7 linked regions of the Homo sapiens genome follow. The protein of the gene in region 5 purifies or fractionates together with the protein of the main gene of each other region. This does not show direct contact. Each region holds a gene or a part of one and is shown on either strand. Other genes may lie near its edges.

Evidence for each region.
Region 1: the proteins of LOXL2 (region 5) and SPRR2E purify together in Homo sapiens (affinity purification with mass spectrometry, with the first as the bait; one large-scale study listed by BioGRID). This does not show direct contact.
Region 2: the proteins of LOXL2 (region 5) and CCDC7 purify together in Homo sapiens (affinity purification with mass spectrometry, with the first as the bait; one large-scale study listed by BioGRID). This does not show direct contact.
Region 3: the proteins of LOXL2 (region 5) and PPM1B purify together in Homo sapiens (affinity purification with mass spectrometry, with the first as the bait; one large-scale study listed by BioGRID). This does not show direct contact.
Region 4: the proteins of LOXL2 (region 5) and CSTA purify together in Homo sapiens (affinity purification with mass spectrometry, with the first as the bait; one large-scale study listed by BioGRID). This does not show direct contact.
Region 6: the proteins of LOXL2 (region 5) and PIP purify together in Homo sapiens (affinity purification with mass spectrometry, with the first as the bait; one large-scale study listed by BioGRID). This does not show direct contact.
Region 7: the proteins of LOXL2 (region 5) and MAP4K3 purify together in Homo sapiens (affinity purification with mass spectrometry; 2 studies listed by BioGRID and IntAct, with this or other methods). This does not show direct contact.

What each region holds. Positions count from the first base shown.
Region 1 is NC_000001.11:153,092,058-153,095,832, forward strand, and holds SPRR2E (small proline-rich protein 2E), read right to left. Parts: upstream 2,470-3,775; 5' UTR 2,427-2,469; intron 1,714-2,426; 5' UTR 1,695-1,713; coding exon 1,476-1,694; 3' UTR 1,078-1,475; downstream 1-1,077. UniProt on the Homo sapiens protein: Cross-linked envelope protein of keratinocytes. It is a keratinocyte protein that first appears in the cell cytosol, but ultimately becomes cross-linked to membrane proteins by transglutaminase.
Region 2 is NC_000010.11:32,452,159-32,456,373, reverse strand, and holds part of CCDC7 (uncharacterized protein C10orf68), read right to left. Parts: intron 3,031-4,215; coding exon 2,938-3,030; intron 124-2,937; coding exon 40-123; intron 1-39. UniProt on the Homo sapiens protein: May play a role in tumorigenesis.
Region 3 is NC_000002.12:44,199,507-44,203,721, forward strand, and holds part of PPM1B (protein phosphatase 1B), read left to right. Parts: intron 1-1,679; 5' UTR 1,680-1,693; coding exon 1,694-2,539; intron 2,540-4,215.
Region 4 is NC_000003.12:122,331,165-122,335,379, reverse strand, and holds part of CSTA (cystatin-A), read right to left. Parts: intron 1-4,215. UniProt on the Homo sapiens protein: This is an intracellular thiol proteinase inhibitor. Has an important role in desmosome-mediated cell-cell adhesion in the lower levels of the epidermis.
Region 5 is NC_000008.11:23,369,106-23,373,320, forward strand, and holds part of LOXL2 (lysyl oxidase homolog 2 precursor), read right to left. Parts: intron 1-4,215. UniProt on the Homo sapiens protein: Mediates the post-translational oxidative deamination of lysine residues on target proteins leading to the formation of deaminated lysine (allysine).
Region 6 is NC_000007.14:143,130,646-143,135,308, forward strand, and holds the start of PIP (prolactin-inducible protein precursor), read left to right. Parts: upstream 1-1,431; 5' UTR 1,432-1,471; coding exon 1,472-1,566; intron 1,567-4,548; coding exon 4,549-4,654; intron 4,655-4,663.
Region 7 is NC_000002.12:39,430,643-39,434,857, forward strand, and holds part of MAP4K3 (mitogen-activated protein kinase kinase kinase kinase 3), read right to left. Parts: intron 1-4,215. UniProt on the Homo sapiens protein: Serine/threonine kinase that plays a role in the response to environmental stress. Appears to act upstream of the JUN N-terminal pathway.

The sequences.
Region 1 (3,775 bases), on a different chromosome or scaffold from region 5:
CAAGCAGAGATAGACAAATATTGTGTGTTTTCACTCATATGTAGGAGCTGCAAAATTTGATCTATAAATGTAGAGAGTAGAATGATAGATACCAGAAGCAGGGAAGGGAGTTCAGGGGATGGAGAATGATAAAACACTGGCTAATGAGTACAAACATAGAGATATATAAAAGGAGTAAGTTTTAATATTTGATAGCAGAGTAGGGTGACTACAGTTTACAACAACATATTGTATTTTTCAAAATAGCTAGAAGAGAGGAATTAAAATGTTTCCAACAAAGACAGAAATGATAAATGCTCAAGGTGATGAATGCCCTAAATTTCCTAATATCCCGGCTTTATCATTACACATTTGATCCATGTAACAATATATCACACGTATCCCAAAAATGTGTATAAGTATTAGGAACCAATAAAAACAGAGTCTTCGATAGCATTAGGAGTTATACCTAATGCTAAATGACGAGTTAATGGGTGCAGCATACCAATATGGCACATGTATACATATGTAACAACCCTGCATATTGTGCACACGTACCCTAAAACTTAAAGTATAATAATAATAAAATTTAAAAAAAAACAGAGTCTTCTTATTTTTTATATTAGTTACATCCAAGCCACTCTATTGCTGGAACAAATATGGTAGTGGTTGTCATGGGGAGTGATGATGATGATGATGATGATGGTGGTGGTGGTGGTAATGGTGGAAACAATGATGATATGTTACTGCCAATAAACTTCTAAAATGACAGCTAATTATGTGTCAGGCATTGCGACAACAAAATTTCAGATAGTAATTAGATTTATCCCAAGACTAGTTTGTTAAGTAAATGTTATTTTGGTCGCTTTGCAATAAAGAGATTGACATTCACAGAAGTTGAATAATATGTTCCTCAAATCAATCAAACACTAATTAAGGAAAATAAAAGTGGTTTAAATAATACAGACATAATCTTTGATATGACCCAAATTTTAAGATTCTGACTGTGGTTGAAAGAAAGGTGGAAATAAACCCAAATGATTATATAATTTTACTAATAAAGCAGATTTGAAAAGAAACAAAAGATCCATTCACAAATACGTATGCAAAGATATTTTATTCAGGGAGTGAAAGAAAAGTGACAATTGCACAGGTGTTAGAAGCCCATGCCCAGGTGACAGACAGACACAGAAAACATCAACAGCATTTTTTGATGGTTCCCAGGGACAGAGCTGCTGGTCCTTCTTCCAAAGCTCTGGGAACTGACACTGCTGAGGACTTCCTTTCTCAGTCTCCACCTGGACAGTGGCAATATGGCAGCCTCAGAAAGGAAACCTTTTGCTATCAGGGATCATCATGGGCAGATCACTGGCTAAGAGGAAAGAAGCTAACTGTGTATCCATGGTAGGCTTTGATGAGAAGATGCAGGTGAAGCTGTGGAACAAGGTGAGCCAATTATCCTTATCCTTTCATGCTCCTGATGAATTCTGAAGCTGTTACTTGCTCTTGGGTGGACACTTTGGCTGGCAGGGTGGGGAAGGTGTCACAGGAGGACATTTTTGCTGGCACTGCTGAGGTGGGCAGGGCTGTGGACACTTTGGTGGTGGGCAGGGCTCAGGGCACTTCGGGGGTGGACATGGCTCTGGGCACTTTGGCGTGGGGCACACAGGAGGTGGCTGGCAGGGCTGCTTGCACTGCTGCTGTTGATAAGACATCCTGCTGGAGTCTCAGAATCTGAAAGAAATGATATGACAGTGTTCACAGGAATGGACTCCTCCAGAGAGAGAAGCCAAAGCTTATGTAATACCATGGCATATTATTTCTCCAATCTCCAAAAATTTATTTAAACTCTTAGCTCTCTTTTCATGACTTCCTGTCTTCTCCTTTCCACTTTAGCAAGTTGTTTCATCAGCCCTAGGAATTCCTGCCTTTCCTCATACAATTTTTCCAAAGAAAACATCTCTATAATAAAGAAGCAAGCATGTTATTCCATGAAAATGACATCTTCAGGAAAGGCAGTCACAAGTTCAGACCTCCTGGGCAATCTCACAAGCTATTCCTATCATCATTATCTGTTGTAAAGCACCAGTGGGTTGACTTGGGCACAGAGCAAGGGCTGTTCAGGAAGAAGTACTGGCTCTCACACCTGCTAAGACACAAACCTTTGAAAAGGATACCAGGAAAATATGGAAAAGAGAAAAATACTTCATCCCTTTCTTCAAACCAAAACTTTCCTATTAACTTCTCTGTCCATATGGACATATAATTGTACATTTTTTAAAAATCTGTGTAAAACACTGTATCATGTAATCTAATCCTGTAGTTCCATCAACTAAGTACCATCAAACCTATGATCACAGGTTTGGATCCACCAAACTTGCTGGATTCAGGTTAAATTCAACACTTCAGGGCACAAAGAACAGAGGAACTCAAGGAAGCAGACTCACCAGGTTCTCCAAAGCAGATCAGTGCTCAAGTACCAGGAGTTTAGGAGTTGTAGAGCAGAGAACCTCTTTATAGGGCCTGCTACCCCACCCAGCAGGAAGTGGAACTACCCAAAACTGGGCTGGCCCAGCAATGTCCCAACTAAAATGCAAATCTATCCATAACTGGCATGACAGGGATTCTCAAACTGGGAAATATCCTGTTCTGGGATCTTTCCACTGGATTAAGTGCCCTGACTCACTGAGGCCCTGCCTTAGATCTCAGTTTCAGTGACAGCAAAGAGGGACTTGGGGGATTCTCTAACTGGTGGTCAAGGGCTCTCTTTCTTGATTGGGGGCAATGAATGCTTCCTGTCTTACACATTCCCTAAATCATAAAACTTCCTGCCCTGATCCACTTTAGCTGAATGCCATATTGTTTGTACATGAACCCATCTCCACCTCTACTTTCCTTGTACAATTTGCCAATGTGCTAGAAGGAAGGAGAGACCTAACAAAGGCCTGAGTTCTGGCCCCAGATTTTTTTGCTAAGCTGTATGACCACAGCCAGGTCAACTCTCCTCCCTGGAACTGTAAACAGAAGAGCATCTTATTTACCTCTGGGTTTGGAGGCACTGACCACATTGTGCCATCTGTTGATCCTGTTCAAGCCTGAAATTTTCTGCTCCACCTCTTTCTCTTGCAGAAACCCAGATTTTACCTATATTCCTTTCCTCTTTGAGGGTTGTCTTCTACAACCCTCAAAGAGGCACTTGTGTCCCAAGATAGATACCAGAGTGAGATCCAGTCTCTCCAGTACATTTGCCACTGCTACCATCAAGGGAGTGTACTACAGGCTTTTCATTTGTAAAACTGTACTCTTATTCACCACATTAAGAAAATGGAGAAAAGGGAACCAAAGTTACAAGCATTCATTTTAAATCTATGTATTGAACCATGCCTGTATGTTTCCCTGTGAACATCATATAGAGAACAAGATGCATAGACTCACAGTATCTTATGTAAATAATTAGAAGTTTTCCAGAATAGAGGTCAGAGCACTTAAAGTCTGAAATCTAGGGGAAAATATAAACTCAGTGTGATCCTATGTGTTTGCTTTCTCTACCTCTCTTTCCAAACAGGTTTTAGTCTTTGAAAAATGGTATTTTTTAATTTGTTTGTATGTTCTTCCATTGTCTTTTCCAAAAGCTCTCTAGCCCCACAACCTGCTAGATTATCAACTCACACCCCAATGTATACCTCTCATCTGTTCATTTTAGTACACATTGTTCACTCGATACGTATGTTGTCAATGTGAATGTCTTTCACATCTTTTTAAAACTCTTCCTGCAATCAATGGGGCTTACTAAACA
Region 2 (4,215 bases), on a different chromosome or scaffold from region 5:
TTGATATTTTATACTTGACAGTATATACAGAATACATACATTTTGTTCTTCTTTAAGTGCTTCTTCTAGCTGAGCTGCAAATTGCGAACAATATGTCAAGAATGAATTCATATCATCCCCAACCTTTTGAAAAGAATAATAAAACATAAAGTTACATTTAAGAATCCATATGCATGTCTGTCTTTTTCTAGCATATTTACTTTTTGAAAAATTTTAATTTTGTGTAATTTATGTCCCTTCAAACATTTACAGCAAGAAGCCATGCTTCAAATGCCATACTAGCAAATTCTCCCAAAGAAAAAATATGAAAGAAAGTACACTTTGGGAAGTGGCCCATCAGTGACATATACCCAGCCATGTCTCTCCTCTCATTCATCTCTACACAGTTCCAGAAAATCCAGCATCCCAGCCTCATAGTACTGAAATTTCTGGGTGGCCCAATAAAAGGTAATCATTACCATAAAAAAAAAAATCTCTTGGTGTTAGAAAATGACTACTACCTATGATACCTAACTGTATAATTGCCATGAACTGCAGTCTTCTGCTCTCACCTAATGGGCAATACACAACTTTGAGGAAAAAATAGTTACAGCTTAAATGTCATAACGATCAAATCCCTTCTAGTAAAGCAGTGATTCGTAAATCAGAGAATTGACTCATGATAAACAAATATTACAGGCTTATATACAGTTAGGATTTTCATAGAGTGGTTCTCCATGAAGAATATATTCCCTGAGCATTACATTTAAAGATACTGAGCCAGGCGCGGTGGCTCACACCTGTAATCCTAGCACTTTGGGAGGCTGAGGCAGTTGGATCACTTGAGGTCAGGAGTTCAAGACCAGCCTGGCCAGCATGGCAAAATCCCGTCTCTACTAAAAAGACAAAAAAATTAGCTGGGCGAGGCGCCGCACACCGGTAATCCCAGCTACGTGGGTGGCTGAGGCACGAAAAGCGCTTGAATCCAGGAGGCAGCAGTTCCAGTGAGCCAAGATCACACCACTGCACTCCAGCCTAGGTGACACAGCGAGACTCTGTCTCAAAAAAATAAAAATAAAATAAAATAAATAAATAAATAAATAAATAAATAAATATGCTGAGAGGCTCACATACTTCTTGTCACAATAAAGACCTATAATCATATAGGAGACGGGGAAAAAAAACTAAATCATCCAGCAGAGAGGAAAATGAACAGATTAGTGTTACTAATCACAAATATAAAGAGAAACTATTAGCCTACTTCTTCCACCCACATTCAGGTGCCACAAATATAGAGAAGATAGAGAAATACAGAGAAGATAGAAATTGATTTGACCAAGTTTATAATGTAACCAAATGAGACCAATAAAGCAGAACAGGGCAAGAGAGTTAAGTACGTGTGAAAGGGAGTGATGATAATAGTGGACCATGCTATTTAAGCTGGGTAAGTAAGGGCACAAGGAGGATTTCGGACACTAAAAAGGCAGCAAGACCAATGGATTATGTTTCCCTGTGAAATCAAAGGATTTTTGGAGACAGAATATTGGACAGACTGAGTGGGAAAGACAGGAGGTGGTGGCCACAGATTAGGATGACTGAAATTCAAATTATGAAACAGTTATGGTAAGGACTACAGGATATCACTTTGTCCATTAGTGGTTGATGTGAAATAAAATACAAGATCATTGGAGGAAAGAAATTCAGTAAAATAAAGGGGATATCCGAAGGGCTGATTTCTTCAATTTTGTCAGTATTGGAGACCACAGGAAAGTGAACTTAATTTCATTTTATTTTATTTTTTTGGTGGTTTTTTTTTTAACTTTTGTTTTAGATTTAGTGGGTACATGTGCAGGTTTGTTACCTGGATATACTGCGTGATGCTGAGGTTTGGGGTACCAATGATCCCGTCACCCAAGTACTGAGCACAGTACCCGATAGCTAGTTTTTCAACCCTTACCCCGCCTCCCTCCCACCTCTAGTCATCCCAGTTTCTATTGGACTTCAATTTCAGATTTTAGTTTTGGTTCTTTGATTCATTCCTGGCAGGGCTTCAAAACATAATAACCACAAGGTCATGCAGGATAAGGATTGTGATTACATAGTCCTTTTAATAGTTGGGTAATCACCACCACAATAAAAATATAAAACATTTCCATCATTTCAAAAAGCTTCACTGTACTCCTTTGCAGTCAATTCTCCCCTCCTACCTTAGCTCAAGACAAACACTGGTCCTTTACTACAGTTTTCCCTTTCCCAGAATTTCATATAAATAGAATCATATGATATGTAGCCTTATTTATTTAGCTTCCCCACATCCTAATGTTTTTGAGATTCATCTACATTGTTCTATGTGTCAGTAGTTTGTTCCCTTTATTGTGAAGAGTATTTCATTGTATGCTATACCACAATTTGCTTATCCATTCACCAGTTAGTAAATATTTGGGTTGCTGGATTCAGTAGCTATTCTGGCAGTTACGAACGAAACTTCTATAAACATTTATATACAAGACTTTGTGAGGATGTATGTGTTCATTAATCTTGGATAACCACTTAAGAGTGGAATTGGTGGTTATCTTTTAAGTATATGTTAAACTTTGTGAGCAGCTGTCAAACTGTTTCTCAACATAGCAGTACCATTTGTGTTCCCACCAGCTCTGTATGAGAGTTCCTGTGGCCCCATATCTTTACTAAAATGTGATTATTCTCTATCTTTAAAATGTTGGTCATTCCTAATGGGTATGTAGAACTCCTTTTCTGCAAACTTCTTGGCAAAATTCAGGTCAAGAGGGATTTGGTTGGGTTGAGTAATTTTCTAAGAGGATCATTTTCATGGATGGGAAATTCATTCTGAGGATATAATAAGTACTCCAAAAGAAAATATTTTAAATTTATATTTTTAAAAAGAAAATCGACCCTTTTCAGTGTTAATGTCTCTATATTAGGGTTGCATATACTTACAGATAAAGATAATTCTTCATGTTCATGCTTTACAAATGGTTCTTCTCCATTCTGATCGCAATGTCCATAGGTTTCTTCCAAAGTGGAAACAACCTGTAAAAAAAAAATAAAAGCCAATTAGATACTTTAATAGTTTAAAATTAATTATATTAAATGTAAATAATATTTAATCAATTATGCCAGGACCTTTTTACCAGTAAGACTTATTTCTTCCAGTGCCATAAACTTAAATTTTTCATCCCATACCCAATTTCATGTCATCATGAGGAGAAAGCAATATTCCTTAACCCTACTCCCTAGCAATAGAGAGATGCTCTATGACTCTACCATTTCTGTGTTGATAGCTATCTTAAAACGGAGAGGGCCTGTCCATGAGTGGTTGAAGCATTAAGTAGAGTTTTCCTCAAAGTCTGCCTTGACTTTCTCCTCTGAAGAGAGTTAGGGGAAATAGAAAGATGGAGACCAGAAAGCAATGAATTTTTAAAGAAAATTATCTGGCCTAACCCCTCAAACTTTCAACAAACTTGTACTGTACAAGTTTGATGTACTATATATTTTTTTATATTTGTGCTCTTCCTCATTGTTATTTGGTACATTTACAATTCAATTCTGGATTGCAGTGAAAAAAATAGAAACTCAGAGAAAGGAAATTTTTTCCCCACATCAAGAGCTAAAGTTTCAGCCAGGCATGGTGCTCATGCCTGTAATCCCAGCACTTTGGGAGGCCAAGGCGGGTGGATCACCTGAGGTCAAGAGTTTAAGACCAGCCTGACCAGTATGGTGAAACCCCATCTCTACTAAAAGTACAAAAATTAGCCAGGCATGGTGGCATGCTCCTGTAGTCCCAGCTACTCGGGAGACTGAGACAGGAAAATTGCTTGAAACCTGGAGGCAGAATTTGCAGTGAGCCAAGATCATGCCACGGCACTCCAGCCTGGGCGAAAGAGCGAGACTTCATCTCAAGAAACGAAAAAAGAGCTAAAGTTTCTGAAATGCAGAGTTTAACATAGTAGAAATGCAGGACTTAGGAAGGCCTGCTTGCAAGGTTGGCCTTAACCTGGCATCTGAGATCCTGGATTTCAGGAGGGTTCTCCCCATTCACTGATAGAAGCAGCTCACTGTCCCTAAACTGTTTGTATAACATTGTTTATACTGAACCTCCTTTCCTTGTGAGAGTCTGAAATTTTCGTACATGCTAAGCACAGAGTGAATAGTAAACAACCCCCAATAAATCCCAGGGCACTGAGTTTCTAATGATTTTCCCTGGCAGACATTTCA
Region 3 (4,215 bases), on a different chromosome or scaffold from region 5:
AATACAGCCAACAATTCTGTTTCATTTGCATTTAAGTATCTTTTAAAGTTGCCTTTCAGATGAAATAGCCTATACAAGCAAGCATATAAAAATGTACTTAGAACTAGGCTTTAAAATCATTGTATCACAGAGAATTAAACCAGCATGTTCAAAAGTAATCAAGCATATTCTGTTACATTGCTCTCAGTACAAAATATGACATTCTACTGATAGAATGAAAAATAATTTTTACATGATTTTAATCTTATCCTTTCAGGACTCTTTTTCTATAAATACATTTGTAATTTATTAATACAGTATCACATATAACCCAGGAAAATTATAAAACTGGTATGTAACTTATAAATATTTACATATATATATCGAGTGGTTCATCAGATTTTTTTAAATGGCGATATGTAATTTTATTGTAAAGTTCAATAATGATCATACCTGGAAAAAATCTCACAAAGATACGTAGACCCAAATGGAGGTAAATTGATCTAGACCAGTGTCTCTCAAAACTTTAAATCACCAGCATGCTTTTTTGATGATTCCATCTAAGATCTATTGAAAAAAATCCTTAGGTGTGGGAATAGGGCTATGGAGTCTGCATTTTGAGCAGATATAACAGCAAACATTTTATGGTGTTTATTGTGTTTTAAGTGCTGTTTTAAGCACTTTACATTGACTCATTCTTCACAGCAGCCCTATGAGGTATAGGTACAGGTGACTAAGAAATTTGCCCAAGGTCACCTAGTTAGAGTGTAGGGTTAGCATTGTATGTAGAAAACATACCAGAGAATTCTTTTGCATACTTTTGGGAACCATTACTCTAAGTCTAATCTAAGTCATTTGAAATTGGGAAAGCTTTATTCTATAAAATAGTAAAGTTGGGTAGGCGGGGAGAGGGTGATGCATAGTAGTACTTTCCAATTCTAAGGATTTTAAGTCTTTGTCAGTCAACACTGGGTAGCTACTTCATGGATTTTAAGTTCAGCAAAGTGAAGTCCATTTTTTAGCACCATGTTAAAGGTATGTTTTTAACAGAATCAAAGTAATGATAAGGTTTTCAGTTTTATAGATATATAGTAAAAGTGATAAAACCAAATGTGTGTAGAATGGAGATTTTTATGTTTTAATTGAATTTTGGGGTTGTCTTTAGGTTCACTGGGAGGAGAAATCTTGATTTCAATACTTGCTTTTGAAAGTCTTCTAAAGTATATTAGTATACCTTCCTACCTTGATTTATTGAACAAGATGACTCACTGTTTTGAATATTCTCATTGTCCAGTCTTCTGTAAACTTACATGTCGAACCCTAGACTCACCTTGTAAATTAAATCAGAATGAAATTATTAATGAAGTTTTATTTCTTGTTTTTTCCTTTCTCCTAGAACAGTGGTCTCAACGTGGCTGCACATACAAGTCACCAGAGAGGCTTTTAAAAGATGATATCTGTGTCCCATCCCTAGGGATTCTGATTTAATTGGTCTGATTATTCTTACGCGCTAGGGCTGAGAAACCACTGTTCTGTAGGATGTAGGGGAGGAAATTTCTTGGGCTTTTGTTGTTGCTCCCGTAAATTAGGATAATACTAAAAAAAATACTTGAGGTAGGAGTTACTAGACTATAGAGGGAATATTGTACATACATTTTCTGTCAAATTTAAACATTTAACACCTGCATTTTTTATTTCAGATTTATTGCTAAACATGGGTGCATTTTTGGATAAACCCAAAACTGAAAAACATAATGCTCATGGTGCTGGGAATGGTTTACGTTATGGCCTGAGCAGCATGCAAGGATGGAGAGTGGAAATGGAAGATGCACACACAGCTGTTGTAGGTATTCCTCACGGCTTGGAAGACTGGTCATTTTTTGCAGTTTATGATGGTCATGCTGGATCCCGAGTGGCAAATTACTGCTCAACACATTTATTAGAACACATCACTACTAACGAAGACTTTAGGGCAGCTGGAAAATCAGGATCTGCTCTTGAGCTTTCAGTGGAAAATGTTAAGAATGGTATCAGAACTGGATTTTTGAAAATTGATGAATACATGCGTAACTTTTCAGACCTCAGAAACGGGATGGACAGGAGTGGTTCAACTGCAGTGGGAGTTATGATTTCACCTAAGCATATCTACTTTATCAACTGTGGTGATTCACGTGCTGTTCTGTATAGGAATGGACAAGTCTGCTTTTCTACCCAGGATCACAAACCTTGCAATCCAAGGGAAAAGGAGCGAATCCAAAATGCAGGAGGCAGCGTGATGATACAACGTGTTAATGGTTCATTAGCAGTATCTCGTGCTCTGGGGGACTATGATTACAAGTGTGTTGATGGCAAGGGCCCAACAGAACAACTTGTTTCTCCAGAGCCTGAGGTTTATGAAATTTTAAGAGCAGAAGAGGATGAATTTATCATCTTGGCTTGTGATGGGATCTGGGATGTTATGAGTAATGAGGAGCTCTGTGAATATGTTAAATCTAGGCTTGAGGTATCTGATGACCTGGAAAATGTGTGCAATTGGGTAGTGGACACTTGTTTACACAAGGTATGTAAACTTTTTTGTCATTAAAATAACATGTTAATTTTGAAAAGTTACGGTAGGTAAAGTTAAGCTAACTTAAAATTTTAAAACTTTTAATATTTTCACAGAAGCTGTATATTTTGAAGTACTTTACCAGAAATGAAACCATTGTTTTCTTTGCCATCCTTGTTTGTCCCAGCCTTCTAATTTGAAAATTAAGCTTGATAAATTTGAGGCATTTGTTGTCATTTAAGTACTTCATAGCTTGTTGCTGTAGCAAAAGCATTTACACAGAGTGACTTTTTCTTGACATTGGCAGTAACCATCTTATGCCTGATTATGAAGCAGCTTGATAAAATATGTATATAGTAGAATTCTGTACTAGATATTACTAAAAGATCAAGAGCCATGTGAAATATTGGAAGATGTACTAGATGCCTAGCCTGTATAAAATTTAGTCCTGAGCCTCCTAGCAGTGAAGACAAAAACTGAAATAAAAATATGGGTTGTATATTTCTCATTGTCTTCTAAAAGCAGCTCTTATCTGGCAATACAATCTAAAAAGGATTTACATGTGGCTCTCTAAGTAATACATGACTTGGATAGTATCTTTTGTAGAAGATAAAATTCTTTTCATATAGATGTTTTTATTATTTCTGATTAAAAACCAAAGGCTTCTATAAAACATAATCTTGTGAAAAATTCCTGTGGAACACTAAAGTTTATTTAGATTTGTAATTTTGTATGAATCATTGCTTGATACAGTAATAGAAAAAAAGTCCAGAGTAATAGATAATTGGCAATCCTTTGAATATCTTTAAAATACTCAGTTGTTTCAAGTGGGTTTTTGACAGCATCTATATATAATTCAATTAAAATTTGAGTTATCTGGCCAGTGTCTGGAGTGTGTAAGTATTTGACTGAAAAGATACCAAGGTAAAACTGACCTTTAGTTACATGAAATAAATAAAGGGTTTGACTTATTTATTCTGTCTAGATTAGAACCACTGTATCTCCCTACTCCAAAATGTACTGTGGAAGGTATGGGCATAACCAGAAAGTTTTTCAGAAAGGATCTCTGGGTCTCTGGAAATGCCCAGATTTTGGTTAAATACCGATTTCTTTTTAATAGAATGGAAAGAGGCAGTTTTAAAAACAGAAGATTTAAAGGCCGTTCTTGTCAGTGGACAGCCTTTTTCTGAAAGGATTTTAATGATGGTACCTCTAGCTCCTCTGATTTTTATTTTTAACACACTGTATCTTTTTACTTCTGGATGAGTTAAGTAAAGAAGTATTGATGGTTGTCAGTGATCAAATAGTAAGTGGGTCTAAAATTATGTATTTGTCTTTGAACTCTAAATGAAGCAATTCTGACCTGTAGATTTTTGAGACAAGCATAGGCATATGTTTGTTGCCTGACTAGCTAATGAAAACAGCATTTTCCCCAATTATAAAAAAAAGGTATATACTTACTATTGGAAAAAAAATCCAGATGATGAAGAAAATATAGAGAAACACCCAAAATTTTGCCATCCACCCTAAGTCAGCTACTTTCATTGTTGTGGTGTATATTGTTCCAGTCTTTTCTGCCTGCCTGTGAGTGTGTGTATTTTTATAAAACCGAGATGATTATACTTGTTATTCTACAGCCTGCCTTTTCCAACAATATATTGTAGAGAGATCTCCATGCCTATAAGTAT
Region 4 (4,215 bases), on a different chromosome or scaffold from region 5:
GATTGCATGGGCTTACCTGGATAATCCAGGATAACCTCTCCATCTCCAGAGCCTTAACTTAATCACACCTGCAAAGTCTCTTTTGCTGTGTAAAGGAACCTAGTCACAGGTTCCAGGGATTAGGACATGGACATCTTTGGAGGGCCATCATTCTGTCTACCATGGAGGGATATGGGTTGGGTTTAAATGTCAGCATTCCCGAACCCAGCATGAGAAGGGAGACAGTCCCAAATTCAATATGTAAACTTTTACTGAGCCCATCAACTTTCTGTACAGTGCTTCATTCCCACTCTCAGCTGGGCCTGATATGCAAGAGTCTACTATGAGCTCTTGACTCAGTTCCTGCTAAGTGTAAAGCTCGTCTTCTGCCGGGGTGGAGGACAGTGAGGGAGAAGGAACTATGGGAGGTCTCACTGTCCTTCATACAGATCAGTCCTCTTGCTTTTGGTCTGAGACCTTACTCCTGGCTACGACTTTTTGGTGTTGCTCATGCCTGCGCCATTGTGACGTTCTGCAGTGTGAATCTGCTTGCTTCTGGCTTAGACTTTCCCCTCTATGGGCTTAGCTTCTGTTTAGACTGCTCAGCATTTTCCATTGTTCATCTGTTTTCCAACTTCCAAAATTTTATTGGTATTTCTGAGGTGGTACTTGCCTATCTCCTGTTGTCTTTATGTCTGTGGATTTGTCCTTCAACCCCAATTCTTTTCTGTCTTTTGGAGGAAAAAGGATATAACTCTCTGTGTTGAATGTACCTTGTTTATTGAGAACTTGCTTTTATGCCCTTCATGAAAGCATTGCATGTCCATACAACTTCAATCAGGCCTCCAGTCCATCTAGGATTCTCCCAAGGCAGTCCTTCCTATCAGTGGGCAGGTTTTTTTTGTTTTTTGTTTTTTTAAATTTAAGAGACAGAATCTCCCCCTCACCCAGGCTGGAGTGCAGTGGCGTGATCATAGTTCACTGCAGCCTCGAATTCCCGGACTCAAACAATCCTCCCTGGGCAGATGTTTTGAACCTTTACTACTGATGCCTCAGTTTGAGTACCAGAACTGTTTTCAAAGATGTAGACATATGCAAACTGTGAGTTCTCAGACCATTTCTGAAAGGCCAAACACTCCACGGACCACCACTCAGTTCTCCTGTAACCTTGAGAATAGACGGGAAAAGTGTGATTGTTCTGTTGAGATGGAAATGAAATTTCAAAGTGGAGAAAGGGAGAAGACAAATAGTGAGGACAAACCAGAAGTGGGAAGAGCTAGGGGCAGGAGAGCGGAGAAAGGATGCACAGAGAAGTAGAGTAAGGAAACAGGTTATTGTCTTAGGGTCCCTTTCCAAAGCCTTTCAAAATTCCAAAGGAGGGATGGCCAGTACTTGGCACCAGTCAAGTTAGGAGCTGAGTTTGAAAGAGTTAATCTCTACACTAACCCCCAAAGTATCCATTTAAACCTCATTTTATGAATGGAGAATGTAAGGCTATGAGTTGAGCATGACTGCTTAAAGTTGAAAAATTATTCAACATAGTTATTTTAAAGTCCTTGCATGATAACTTATATATCTGATCTGTGTTCCTTCTGCTTTTCAGTCATGTTTCTTTTTAAGCACGTATCCTAAGCCAACCAGCCTTTCTTTTCTTTTCTTTCTTTCTCTTTCTTTCTTTCTCTTTCTTTCTTTTTCTTTCTTTCTCTCTCTCTTTCTTTCTTCTTTCTTTCTTCCTTTTTTCTTCCTTTCCTTTCCTTTTCCTTCCTTCCTTTCCTTTCCTTTTCCTTCCTTCCTCTCTCTCTCTTTCTTCTTTCTTTCTTTCTTTCTTTCTTTCTTTCTTTCTTTCTTTCTTTCTTTCTTCTTTCTTTTCTTTCTTTCTTCTCTCTCTCTTTCATGGAGTCTTGCTCTGTCACCTAGGCTGGAGTGTAGTGGCACAATCTCAGCTCACTACAACCTCTCCCTCCTGGGTTTAAGCAATTCTCCTGCCTCAGCCTCATGAGTAGCTGGGACTACAGGCATCTGCCACCACTCCCAGCTAATTTTTTATATTTTTGGAGAGATGGAGTTTCACCATGTTTGCCAGGCTGGTCTCAAACTCCTGGCCTCAGGTGATCCACCCACCTTGGTCTCCCAAAGTGCTGGGATTACAGGGGTGAGCCCCCATGCCTGGCCCTAAGTTTTTATTTCTATCTGTCCTAGAAATATATCCAAATCTTTAACTTTTCCATCGTATCTGTGTAATCCACAAATGCAGAATTTTCCATGAGAGAGGGGATTTAAAAGATCTGGTTTGTTTCTTGAAGTGTTCTGGCACCTGTCAGACTGTGGACCTTGATTTCTGGTTCACTCTACTTGTAACTTGCAGCCTCCCTCCCTCTTCCCAGTAAAATAGATTTGCATGGTTTAATGTTAGATGACATGGACCTGAGTGATGAGATTTGAGCTGAGGAGCAGGGAAAGGGGCAGAGTAGGGGAGCTTGTCAGTGAAACTTAAGTCTCAGAAGGTAGCTTGGTGCTGAAAGACTCCCCAGGATGGGCACTAGGAGGATGCAGGCCAGCTGGGAACGGTGGTGGGAGACTGGCGGTGAACGGACACATCTCCTGCTGAATGCAGTTGGCCTTCACCTTTCTCAGTCTGCCACGCGTGATGGTGACGGGAGCTCAAGGAATACAGTGGAGGTTTGTCGCTTGGTCTCCAGCCGGGGAGGAGGCTACCAGGGAGAAGCACCTGGTATAATGCATTTAACCCAGAGTTCTTCAAGCATTTCTCATTGCTACTGAGCATGAATCTTGGTGAGGTGTTTATTCTCTGAGATCTGAGGATTTGAGCCATGAGGCACCCAACACTCAGGCTTTTCCCCTAATCTGTAGTCATTCTACAGAAACAATAGGACTGTGCCTAATTTAATAGAAAATAGATAGAAAGATATTGATGGCAAAGTGGATGAATTACATTTGGGGGAGATTTAGAGAGTAAGGAAGGAGAGTTTGAATAGTAACATGAAAGGACAGTAGGGCCAGTAAGATGTGACTTGTGGACATTTATTGTCTAAGTATGTTTTGAAGGAAGAAGGAAGTATGGGACAAGGCATTGAGGATGCAAGAAATGAAGTCACCTGGCTAAGAGAGGAAGGACTGGCTGAAGAGAGGAGAATAGAGTCTAGGGAGGAATGAGATCCAGCAAGAGATAGGGTCAGCTGGGGCATTTTCTTACCAGAGATCTGCAATCTCCTAAGACAGGTGTTCCCAACCCCTGGGCTGCAGACCAGTACCCATCCATGGCCTGTTAGGAATCGGGCTGCACAGCAGGAGGGGAGCAGTGGGCCAGTGAGCATTATGGCCTGAGCTCCGCCTCCTGTCAGATTAGCGGCAGCATTAGATTCTCATAGGAGTGGGAACCCTATTGTGAACTGCATGCAAAGGATCAAGGTTGCGTGCTCCTTATGAGAAAATAATGCCTGATGATCTGAGGTGGAACAGCTTCATCCCAAAACTATCCCCTCCACCCCATCTGTGGAAAAATTGCCTTCCACAAAGGTACCAAAAAGGTTGGGGACAGCTGGCCTAAGAAGAGTAGGAACTGAGACATCCTGCTGGAGGGACCATGGGGGTGGGAGGCAATGAACAACTGAAGAGAGATTTACATTTGTGGGGTTTCTAGAAAAAGACCAACAAATATGACTGCAAGAATGTTCTGGCAGCCCTGGGTCCTGTCCGGGTTGTTAAGCATTAATCCACAGGTTTGTAATGGTGAGTTTTCTGTGGTTCTGCACCTCGCTTTGGCAAAGTTCTTTGATTCTGGAACAGTAGTAGCTGCATAGAAAGTGGTGGCAGTGGGTGTGACCTTTAATTGAGAATTAGAATGTCAGGAGCTCCCAGGGTCAAGGAAATCATCATGAGTGGAGGAGTATTTGAAGCTACCCTCCTGTCATGGGGTCCAGGCTGGATGAGAGACTCAGTGGGCCTGGGCATGTTCTCATGAAGTTGGGAAGGTAGGTGCCTGAAGGATTCTGGTGTGGCTGAATGACAGGTTCTTTGGGTGTGGGACAGTGGGAGAGGCGACTAATAAGGAGGCTGTGGTCAGAGAGGGGAATGCAAATTTGTGGATGGGGTGAGAGCCATGACATGCTAAGTTCCAGGGTGTGCCCAGGATGGTATGCAGATGAAGTGTTTGTGCGGTGTCCTGACTGACAAAAATCATGTTCTGTGTGTTGGCCAGGAATAGTATTCAGCAAT
Region 5 (4,215 bases):
AGGGCAGGATGTTCAACACACCCACCCTCCATTAAATGAATGGCACCCCAAAACACTACAGGAACATTTGCTAGATGAATTATAATTTTCCCGTCAGCTTTGAGGGCTGCAATGCTAAATGAGTTTTAAAATCCTCAAGGTCCTGGTCATCGTATCTGGTGGAGCCTACCTCTAAGAATTCCCGAGTGAAATCATGTAGCAAGAGACCTCGTGTATCTTGGTCCTCCCGTAATTCAGAGAAAAGAGGAGACGATTTTAAAAGGAGCACACGTGTGTCTTGTGGAGAAACATGCAGGGCCCCAAACCAGGATGAGCAGGTGGAAGCTTAGGTGGGGGCATAAGGTATTTTATTTTAACCCTATGCAGAGGAGTAGGCTAATCATATTCTTCTGGTCATGGCACACTACCTTTGAGGAAGGACTGGCTAACTTTCCTGTAGTCAGAGCTGTCCAGAGCTGCCCATGGAGGGATGATCTGCCTTGGAGTGAGGCAGTTCCATGTCTGTTGGGTGACCAGCAGTGCTCAGTGCCCCGAAGAGGATGCTGGGGTGGAGATGTTAGAGCCTGGGGGACAGTCAGAACTGAGGATTTTGGAAAGCTTTCTGATGTCACCGGAGAGCCAGCCATGCTCATCCTGTGACTAACAAACAAGGCCAGAAAGTGATGGAGGGTTCCTGTGATAGCTCCTGACCAACGGACCAACGCACAGCCTGACCCCCTAGTAGTGTGGCTCTGAAGGGAATCAGGGTCCTGGCCACTCATCATTCCCATCAAAGCACATCTGCATCCTCAAGCTTACCTATGCCTCACAAGAACCTTGGGGAGTAGAAGAGGCAGGTATTATTAGGATTCTTATTTTACAACAAAATCAAGAACCAGAGAGGGTTAGAGATTTTGCCAGAGTTGCACAGTTACTGCAAGCAAAGCCAGAATGGGTCACTCCCAATGTGCCATCCCATATAAAAAGTCCTGGTTCAGCTTGGATACAAAAGCCTTTATGTGTGGCACGTGCCTACCTTCCCTGCTTCGGTTCCCACGACGGTGTCTCCCTTCTCTCACCCCAGCCCTGCCCATGGCACACATCCCATCATATCAGCCTATACCAGCTTCAGCTTTTGACACCTAGAACAACGCGCCTCCATCCCCTCCCCTCCCCTCCAAATGGCACCTGGTGCAATCCTTCCTGTTCTTCACAGAGACCTTCCTAGGTCCTCCTATCAGATTGAATGTATTTCTGCTTCCCTTTGACATCACATTTTGCTGGTGCTTTACATTGTTGTCATGTCTGGCTCTGCCACCGGACCCTCAGGCCCAAGGGACAGAAACCACCTCTTTGTCATTTCTGCTCAGCAACACATCTGCCTCTGGATGTATCAGGCTACCTTGCAGTAGATAAAGCTACCTGCCAAGAACAACTAGAAAAGGAAGGTAAAATATTAAAAACATATGTTCGAAGACACGAGAAAGCTACCGAGGCACCAAGGACTGAAGGAACCAAGAATCCAGAGAGATGGGAAGGGCATTGAGGTGAGGCTCACTTTTGTCTCTGCTTTCCCCCGGAAGATACTCGCCAATTCCACGGCAGTGATCAACAGGCTGAGAAGCTAAGCAAAGCTGCAGGCAGCCTCCAGGGACTGGGGAGACCGGGAGTTCAGAACCTGCCAAGGACAAAGGGACCTGTTAAACAGCTCCAGGCTCTCAGATGCATTCCTGAAGAGCTGCACTCTAGAAGCCAGGGCATAGGAAGGTCTGACATTCCCATAAATGGAATCCCAAAGAAGAGGAGAGAAAGGATGTGCAGAGGAAATAATGGAAGAAATAATGGCCTAGAATTTTCCAGAATGACAAAAGACATCAAGCCCACACAGTATAGTTTACAAGGAAAACCACATCTGGGCACATCGAAATCCAACTGCAGAGAAGACAAGATAGAAAGAAAAATCTTAAACACAGGGTAGAGGAGCTGAGTTACCTTAGAAAGAGCAGCAGAAAGACTAACAGCTGGTCCCCTCAACACAAATAAGGAGACAAGACTTCAACAGCGCAACATTTTCAAAGGGCGGAAAAAAATAAGTCTGCCTAGAATCTGTGCCCAGTGAAGAGAACGAAGGTAAAATAAGGACATCCCAGATAAACAAAAGAGGAGCGAGTCTGTCACCAGAATACCCACAAGACGGAAATACTACAGGGAATTCTTCAGGCAAAAGGAAAAATCATCCCAGATGTCAGTAAGGAGGCGTAGGAAGGAATGAAGAGTATGAAGTAGGAAATGATGTAGGTAAATCTCAATGAAGATCGAGTGTGTAAAACAGGAAGAATGTCCTGTGGGGTTTAAAATACATGTATGATTAAAATGCATGGCAACTGGCTGGGTGCAGTGGCTCACGCCTGTAATCCCAGCACTTTGGGAGGCTGAGGCGGGCGGATCACAAGGTCAGGAGATCAAGCCCATCCCGGCTAACACGGTGAAACCCCGTCTCTACTAAAAATACAAAAAATTAGCCGGGCATGGTGGCGGGCACCTGTAGTCCCAGCTACTCGGGAGGCTGAGGCAGGAGAATGGCGTGAACCCAGGAGGTGGAGGTTGCAGTGAGCCGAGGTCACGCCACTGCACTCCAGCCTGGGCGAAAGAGTGAGAGTCTGTCTCAAAAAAAAAAAAAAAAAAAAAAAAAAAAAAAAAATGCATGGCAAGCGCAGCACGAAAGGCAGGAAGGCATTAAATGGAGCTCAAGTGGTTTGAGGTTCTTGTGTTGTCTGGGAAGTGGTAAAAGTACTATTGTCTATTAGACTTTAGCAAGTCTAATAAATGCATGTTGTAATCTTTATAGGAATCATTGTAAGAACCATATACTGAAAGAAAAGTACAACTAACAGGTTAATAAGGGGGTTTGGGGGAGAAATGGTAGAATTAAAAAATACTTGATTAATCCAAAATTGAAGCAATAAAACAAATAAAAAGTAACATAAAACAATTGTTACAAATAGAAAAAATATTAGATGGTGGGTTTAAACTCCAATATATCAGTAATTACATTAGATAAAATAAATACTCCAATTAAAAGACAAAGATCATCAGAACGAATATAACAAAACAATTCAGCTTTACATTTCTTTTTCTTTTTTTTTTTTGAGATGGAGTCTTGCTCTGTTGCCCAGGCTGGAGTGTGCAGTGGCGCGATCTCAGCTCACTGCAACCACTGCCTCCTGGGTTCAAGCGATTCTCCTGCCTTAGCCCCTCGAGTAGCTGGGATTCCAGGCATGTACCACCACGCCTGGCCAATTTTTGTATTTTGAGTAGAGATGGGGTTTCACCATGTTGGCCAGGCTGGTCTCAAACCCCTGACCTCAAGTGATCCATCCGCCTCAGCCTCCCAAAGTGCTGGGATTACAGGTGTGAGCCACCACGCCCAGCCCAATCCAGCTTTATATTTCTTAGAAGAGACACAGAGGCTTAATGTAAAAGGATGGAAACAGATATACCATGCGTACATTAACCAGAGGGAAACTTGTACGATCAAGCTGACCTTAACACAAGAAACATTACCAGAGACAAAAAGGGACAGTTTACGATAATGAAAGTCAATCCACCAGGATAATGTAACTCTTCTAAACGTACGTGCATAGCTTCAATATATATAAAAGAAATATTGATAGAACTAAAAGGAAAAAATAGACAAATTCATAATCAGAGTGGGAGATTTTTACACACCTCTGTCAGTAACGGATAGAAGACACAGAAAAATCCTGGGGTTGAAGATGTGAATGACATAATTAACAAACTTAACCTAATTCACAAGTTTCTATAAACTGTACTCAGCAACTGCAGAAGGCAGCTATGCTCCAGGGACACATGGAACATATAATGATACAAACATATTAAGATATTAAGATACAATGATATTATGCAGAATATGTTGTTTGACTACAACAGAATTCAGCTATAAACCATTAATAAAAGAACAAGTAGAAAATCCCCAAATATTTGGGAATGTTGGATGAGGAAATCTATTATCATGCATCTCCATCCAGCTCACAGTACTAAATTGATTTATTCATTCAACAAGAATTCATTGAGCTCCTACTATACCTCAGGCCCTGCTGGGAGTAGAGGTCTTCTTTCCCATGGAGCTGACTGCCTAGCTGGAGTTCGCCTACAAGGTATCAATGATTGTTCATGGTCTGAACTACCTGAGCCAGCGGAGGGGGGGCCTAACTT
Region 6 (4,663 bases), on a different chromosome or scaffold from region 5:
GTGCTTCAAATGGAAATTATGCAAGTGAGAAGGACCAGGTGTAAAGACAATTTAATTGTGGGAAAAGGCTTACAAAGGAAGGTCATTGTGACCCTCACAAGCAGTGTTCTTGAGTGGATAGGACATAAACAGGGAAGAAAGCATGTGATCATGAGAACAGCTGAAGTTCTGAGTGAGCAATGACATGAATGGTGTCCAATTCAAAGAAAAGAGAAGGTAGATCCAGGAGCTGAATAAACAGACAGAGCAATTTTGAGAGATACATCCAGAAAGCAGAAGCACACACTTACACTTTAGCTCTGAATCCTGGCTAAAGCAACATACAGAGGCGGTAACTCCTAGAACTCTGATTTTCACTCTGTTGCCAGAGAGGCTCTTCCTGGGCAGCTGTGTGCCATGCAAATGATAGAAACAAATCCCATAGTATTGTAAGTCATAGGTTAAGGAGCAGATTTAATTTCATAAGGAGAAATAACACAATGCCAGTGTCAGCAAGAGCAAGTCTCCCCATCATCCCAAGGAGAGGAATTCTACAACCTGGGTATCTACTGGACATAATGTGGGCTCCATTCTCACAGAAGGAATCCTTTCCACTGTGGTTCTTCCTGTGTGGCTTACGCATGAGACAAGTGTAAGAAAGTGGCCATGTCAATAAGAAAATAAGCCAGCTCTTTGGTGCCAAGAAGTCTGATTTGGGGGTGCCAGCTATTTATAGGAATTGTCTAGAATTAAAATATCACCCTGCCTTGGGGATTGTGGGGCAGCTGGGGATCTTGGACATCTGCAGTATATTGCAACCACACCTGAAATTAAGAAGGACTCAATGACAATAAACATCTTTACATCACCCAGTGTCTTGAACTCACTTCCCCATCATGTAGAGCAGCTCAGGTCTTCTCTAGCTCTTCCACCTCATGATGGGTAGTGACTGCTAGGGAAGTCCTGATCATCCTAGCCCTCCAAGAAATGTTTTGAATAGCATTGCATCTTGAACTCACTATAATTTGATCAAGCAAAGATGTTCTATGTCTCTGGTCTGAAACCTGCCACCACAGCTGTGTTCTCTGCTTTCAGAGACCAGGGGAGCAGTGACTGAAGCTAAGACTACACATAGCACTTCAGACAGGCAAATTAGGAGGGAAAAGAAAACTGAATCTGTAAACTCGGGAAAAACTGGTGTATCTTTTGAGGTCCCAGCCATTTTGAGAAACTCTGATGCTGAAAAAATAAGGAAGAACAATCTGACTCCTCTCTCAAACGCTGACATTCTAGCTGAGTGTTGATTTTTTCTTAGAAAAACAAACTTTGGGTCAACAAGGAAAGATCACGAGTGGGGAGGGTGAATGGGTGATTCACCTCATGGATCTCCCTGGCAGCTCTTGCACTTCCTTGATCAATCTGTATATAAGAAATGTGCTGGGCACCTGGGACACCACTTCTCTGGGACACATTGCCTTCTGTTTTCTCCAGCATGCGCTTGCTCCAGCTCCTGTTCAGGGCCAGCCCTGCCACCCTGCTCCTGGTTCTCTGCCTGCAGTTGGGGGCCAACAAAGCTCAGGACAACACGTGAGCCATGCCCTTCTCCTCCCCACAAAAAAAATTGCAGGGAGGGCTCCTCTCCCAGTCTGGAAATTACATATCTCTTTCTGAGAATTTCTTTCAACTTCCCAGAACTCTAGTCCCAGGAGCTCCCATGGATCTCCTGCCAGGTTCCACTTCTTGTCCTCTTAGGAAGCCCCACCAACTCCTCTCACATTTTTGCTGGGTGTTTCTGCATTGCCAGTGGAAATAAAGCTCCAAATGTACCTACAGGCTGTAATTAGTAGTTAGTCTTCATCTAACATGCTGATCCACATCTTGTTCATAATTTATACCTTTGTTCAGATTTCTGCTCAGTAAACTTTACCTTCTCACACCTTGCCTCCTAGAAGAGAAGCATAACAGGTCTGTGAATTCCAATGGCAGCTTAGGGCAGCTTTGGCAGGACTGGCTAAAGGACCAGAGGCCCTGGCCACTGCCCTGTGGTCTGAGATTGAGCTAGACTGGCAGCTTAGACATTCTTCCTAACCTGAAGTCTGAAGATGAATATGATGACCTCTTGCTCTCACGTATACTGGGACCTGAGAGCACAGGTTCAGAAGTCAACTTATTGAGAACACATGTGTGAAGGAAGCAGAAAAATTGGAGCAAGTAAAATAAAGTAGAAAATGGAGCCAAGGGTCTGGGAGAAAGCAGCGATACCCAATCTAGGGAGTTTTCTCTATAGCAGTAGGGTTTATAATGCTGGGTTTCTGGGTTGTGATCTTGGAGGTACTCTCTATGGCATGGTCAGATATCCTGTCCTGGAGGAAACTGTTCAGGGTTTTGACAAGCTAATGTAATGGAGGCAAGTGTCCCAAGAAACCCTGCATGGGGACAGGTTCAGATCCCACCCCATTCCCGCCAGATGACAGTCCACTTAGCCCTGAAGGGCAGCAAGGTATTCAAATAAGCTATGCTAATTAGGTTATCAACCATCCATCCTGATTTGCCCAGAACTTTCCTGGTTGTAGCACTGCAACTCTGCCCTCCCCCGCCACCTCCACAACCCATTCTGGAAAAGACCTCAGTCCTGGGTAAACTGAGATGGTTAGTCACTCGAACTAAGCTGGTCATCCTATCAATCTGAAACTCATATACAAATGGGAGAGATTTTGAAGTTGCTTAGGTATTTATACCCTTTTCCTGTGCACTGGGCACTACAGCAGTTGGCACCAAAAAATAGAATCTCTCTAAGATGCTTTGCCCCAAGAAAATGGGGCTGTGAGACACTGTGGGCTAAGAATCTCAATTCCCTTCTGTCCCACACAATAACAAAGGTCCGTAGCCGGGAGTTTCTAGGGACGAGAAAATAACTCTCCTGGCCCCGAACCCAGTCCTCATTGACTGAAGAAGAACATTTGACCATTTTATTTGTCTCCATTTCCTTTCCTTTTCAGATTGCAGTGTATGGTCTAAATGTAGAGTAGTATCTAAAGTTCCCAAACATGGCCATATGTCCAAATTTCCTAAGGAGCTAAATAAATACAAATTCCTAAACCCTACCTGGGGACCACAGAAGGAGGATCTTCAAAGATGCTCCTACAAATACCTCCAGTGCATTGAGATGTTTGCTGGGTTTTTAAAATTTTTTATTATTTTATTTTATTTTTCCATAAGTTACTGGGGTACAAGTGGTATTTGGTTACATGAGTAAGTTCTTTAGTGGTGATGAGATTTTGGTGCACCCATCACCCGAGCAGTATACACTGCACCATATTTGTAGTCTTTTAGCCCTCACCCCTCTCCCACTCTTCCCCGCAAGTCCCCAAAGTCCATTGTATCATTCTTATGCTTTTGAGTCCTCAAAGCTTAGCTCCCACATATCAGTGAGAACATACGATGTTTGGTTTTCCATTACTGAGTTACTTCACTTAGAATAATAGTCTCCAATCTCATACAGGTCACTGCAAATGCTGTTAATTCATTCCTTATTATGGCTGAGTAGTAGTATTCCATCATATATATATATATATATATATATATATATATATATATATATATATATATACCACAGTTTCTTTATCCACTCGTTGATTGATGGGCATTTGGGTTGGTTCCACAGTTTTATAATTGTGAATTGTGCTGCTATAAACATGTGTGTGCAAGTATCTTTTTTGAATAATGACTTCTTTTCCTCTGGGTAGATACCCAGTAGTGGGATTGCTGGATCAAATGGTGGTTCTATTTTTAGTTCTTTAAGGAATCTCCACACTGTTTTACATAGTGGTTGTAGCAGTTTACATTCCCGTCAGCAGTATAGAAGTGTCCCCTGATCACTGCATCCACGCCAACATCTACTGTTTTATGATTTTTTGATTACGGCCATTCTTGCAGGAGTAAGGTGGTATCGCATTGTGGTTTTGATTTGCATTTCCCTGATCAAGAGGTTTGCTGGTTTAATGTGATTCTGTTGCTAGAAAATTTTCTCCTAATAATGACTTGAGCCCTCCTACTCAGTAGACAACCACCAGAGCCTGTAGGATGTTATCAGGAAGTGGCATGTGGTATTGTACATTTTTTCTTTTTAAAAACTTGTTTTTGGTCAATGGAAGGGAAGAAGATGCTCGTTCATTGATGGGCATTTGGGTTGGTTCCATGATTTTGCAATTGTGAATTGTGCTACTATAAACATGCATGTGCAAGTATCTTTTCTAAATAATGACTTCTTTTCCTCTGGGTAGATACCCAGTAGTGGGATTGCTGGATCAAATGGTAGTTCTACTTTTAGTTCTTTAAGGAATCTTAAAGTGTCCTAGTTGTTTTATTAAACAAAATTAAATCTGTGTGAAGTTACCAATCCAATCAACACATGAAAATTCCAGGGGATTCCAATGCTGAACAATTGATCCAAGCCCCATAATTTCCCTCCCTTGCCCATCCTGTGCCCCTTGCCCTGTTCATGGCTCCCCCCTCACTCAAAGATTGGTCTCTGATCCTGGTGTTCTGATTCTCTCTTCCCACAATCAGTCGGAAGATCATAATAAAGAATTTTGACATTCCCAAGTCAGTACGTCCAAATGACGAAGTCACTGCAGTGCTTGCAGTTCAAACAGAATTGAAAGAATGCATGGTGGTAAGTAGA
Region 7 (4,215 bases), on a different chromosome or scaffold from region 5:
TAAAAGTCATATGTGATAGCCTACTGCTGTATTCACTAGTCAGTCACTAGGGGTATTTAGTTCAAAATGACGGAGTATCTTCATATGCATATAACAATTATGAACATTGCTTAATATGCCAAAGATACATTAACCCTACTGATTAGATTTAAGACCTAATAATAACCCATTACATTTAACTCATTCTGTACCCACTATTGCCAGAACTCTAAGTCAAGCCCAATGCCACCTCCTCTGCAAGGCCTGCTGTGATTTCTCCCAGTCAGAAATAATGATCTCCTTCCTCTAAACTCATGTAGCCATGGTTTGTTCCTCTCGTGTTGGTTCATTTATTCATTCCATAAATATTTATTAAGAACCTAATATGGGTCAGCTACTCTTCTAGGCTCTGGGGATACAGCAATGAACAAAGCAAAATCACCAGTTTCCTGGATTTATACTCTAGTGGGAAGAGACAGGCTATAAACAAATAAACATGTGGTGATACATGCCATAATTAAAAATTAAGTAAAGAGTCCAACTGAATTTTTTGTGAAGCTAACAAAACTTAAAGTTCAGGCCCCTTCACTTGCATGGTCCTCTATGAGTGCTGAGAGTTGCTGGGACATGTAGAGTATTCCAGGTGGAGACAGGGAGCCAGGGAGTCATCAGAAAGCATTTTTTTGTGAGCATTTGTGATTAAATGCCTAAGGAAGTCTCAGAAGAAAGGGACCTAAGGTTACAGTATTTTGTTGGGATATCTTTTCTCATTCTAAAGATTCACTTTCATACCTTTTTTAATTCTAGTTTTGTTTTCTTAATGAGGGTCCCCAAAACTGCATCAACTTCAGGTCCCGTAAAACCTGGATCCATCCCTGAACTGTATCCCTGAAAGTGGTGGGAGAAGTGCTGTTTTTTGTAGGGTGGAAAGGAGCAGGCTCATTAAAAGATGACATTTGAGCTGAGACTTTAAACGAAGAAGCAAGCCAAACAGATATTGGTGGGGAGGGGTGGATTTTAGGCAGAGACAGCAAGCTAAAAACCCTGAGGCAAAGCATGAGGAATGCAGTTGGTTAGAAGGACAGTAGGAGGAGAAATACATAATAATAAATACTTCTAGACACTAACAGCAATTAACAATGACCACACTTTTTTGTGTCAGGTACTGTCCCAAGCACTTTTCTAAGCATCTCCATTTTACAGCTGAGGAAACTGAGACACACAGAGAGGGATTAAGTAATTGGCCTAAGGACAAAGCTAGTGGGTGGTGAAACTAGGCAGCCTGGCTCCAGAACCCTGTTCTCAAATCACTATGCTGTGCTACAGAGGTCGGTTGTGCAATTATGGAGTATCTAGAGAGTCTCTCAGCCAGCAAGAGATTTAATATGATATAAATGAGGAAACCAAAAGGTTCTGATCTCAAACTATGACAGCTAATAGCAGGTACACATTTTATGTTCCTGTAAATACCAAGTACCAAGCCTTGTCATTTCTGCTACTCTACTCACAGTTCATAACACATTTCCTCTCATATTACAGCTGTTCAATGTATGATGGCTGTTCAATGTACTCTCATGAGAGAACTTACTATTCATTCTTAATACAAAATGATGCATTAGATACGTTTCACCAATAAATACATATACAGATCAAAGGCTGGAGGTAAGTACTTCCTTTAGGTAATCAGATCTGCATCAAAGTCAGAAAACCTGTTTGTTTTTCAAACACTCTAGAAAAATTACCTCGCTACCTGTTTCATTGTCACTTTTCATCTCAAATAGCAACTGATGATGGGAAATTCTACCTTATTCAACTTCAAATGATCTTTCTGAAGTTTAGGGCCATTTCTTCTGGTCTCTCTAGAGTCTATTAGAGTCTATCCTAAATGGAAGTAAATAGAAGTGAGCATAACTCCAAATAACAATGTTTGAGCTTCCTTCAAATGTTCTTTTCTAAATGCTTAAGGTCTTCATATTCCTTATCCGTTAGGTTTAAGAATTGAGTTTTCCAGAAAGGTTCTCACAAATGCTGATTATAATGGAAGAATTAGTCTATGATGATATTAAATAGAACACCTTGAAAGATGCATAATTACAAATAAACTAACACGTAATTATCTAAATGCATATAAATTGGTTTCCTTATTTTACTGCCCAATCCTCACCTTTTTTCCTGCCAGCTTTCACAGACACTTTAAATCTATTTACACAGACTACGATGTGAATCCTACCTGGAAGCTTAACAACACGGCAGCCCGTGCTTCAGAGGGAATGGCTTCCAAACACACAAAGGTGAAAAAAAATCAATATCAACGTTTCCAAAGCATGTTCTACAAAACACTAGTACTAAGGACAAGCAATATGTATTACAGAGAAAAAGAATCTAATAGTCAAGTAAGTTTGGAGTTTGCTAGGTTAAGCAAAGTTTACCAGGTTTCTTTACCATAGGACTTCTCAGTCTTTAACCTACTCATGGTATGGCTTTTCCTGAAGCACCCCAACCACACTTTGGAAAATGCCTGTGTACAGAATTTAGCTAATGCCTAAGAAGCCCAGTCCAGAAGTCACTAAAGATGACTCTAAGGCTTACAGCCTGGAGTCTTTGTGTATCCAGTCTTGGATACACAGGCTAGGAATCATTCACAGGGACCAGACTAAAACCATAAGACTAGGTAAGATACTTCCTCAGAAACCATATTGAGACTATTCTTTCAAAACTTCTTTTGCCTTATCCCATCTCCAGCTTTACTATCTCCTGCTTCTTTCTAGCAAAAAATCTAGAAAAACATAAGGACATCAAGACTTAAAGGGTAGGAATAATAAAAATTAAACTGGAAAACTGCCTGACAAAAGATGGCACAATGCATGTGAAAATCATATTATGATCTATTATAACTACCTAATTTCTCCAAGAAAACTTTTTTGAATGGCAAACCTATGGATCATTTTTTCATTTTTTTGGATCATGAAGCTCTTTAAGAATGCAATGAATGCTATAACCCATCTCCACAGAAAAACACAAATACATACAACATTAAGCCTATTAATTTCAGAGCACTCCATGGGCCTCCTGAGGCCCAACTAAAGAGCTTCAGTTGCCAGCTCCTAGGTCCCTAGGTAACCCAAGCTGCAGGCACTTCATGACAGATAAAGCCTGCAGAGTTACACGACACTTACAAGATACGACTTTAGACAGTGCAGATAAAATGTATATATGCATTGGCCTGAAAAAAATAAAGATAACTTACTTACTAAGTAAAATTTGAGTCATTTAGTCAATACCAAAAGAAGAAGGGCATATGATGGTAATAATATCTCCACAACAAAACAGCTCTGAGAGGTTGATTTCACAAGGTCACATAGCTAATAAATCCCAGATTGTCCACATCCTTGTTCAGTGCTTTGGAACTAAACCACGCCACCTTAAGTACAATAAATATGTTATTACATTGAGTAGGAAAACATTTTCAAAATAAAAATCTCCACCAACCTTCCAAGAATGACTATAATCGGATCTCTTATTTATTTAATCCAATCATTCCATTTTTAGCACGTAAATGCTGACAAATTAAGGAACAAATTATATATATTGGCTTTTGAAAACAAAATGTACTTCTCTCTAGCACAATTAATTTGTATAAATAAGAAAAAACTAAAACAGCAAAACAAATAACAAAAAAATGTAACTTTATAGAATAAACTTGATTATAGACAAAAACATAAACAAGAGTTTGGCAGGCAGGGGTACATGATGTCAAGAACCACATGAAGTTTCTCTGCTTTGGTCACTGGTATTGGAAGAGTCTGGCAGGCAGGGACCAAGCATCTATTATCTGATATCCACTTGGCAGACTACATAAACAGTGAGACCTTGTGGCACAGCAGGAATTAGGTATTCCAACTACTACTTAAAGATCTACACTGACTCAGAGTGTGGCTACAACTCAAATGCTAAACTAAATGTGTGCCTCAGTTTCTCCACTGGAAATGTAATACATTATCTGCCCATCTCCTATCTTTAGAGAGGCAGCACTGCCAATTGGTTAAGAATACAGTCCCTAATTGGTTCAAATTTTGGCTTTGCCACCTACCAACTTTGGCAAGTTAATCTCCTTGTGCCTCAGTTTATTCAACTGCAAAATGGAGTTAACAATAGCACCTATCTCACAGGGTTGCTGTTAGGATTAATTAGAAAAATCTTATAGTGCCTGGCAAGTAACAAGCATTCCATAAACAT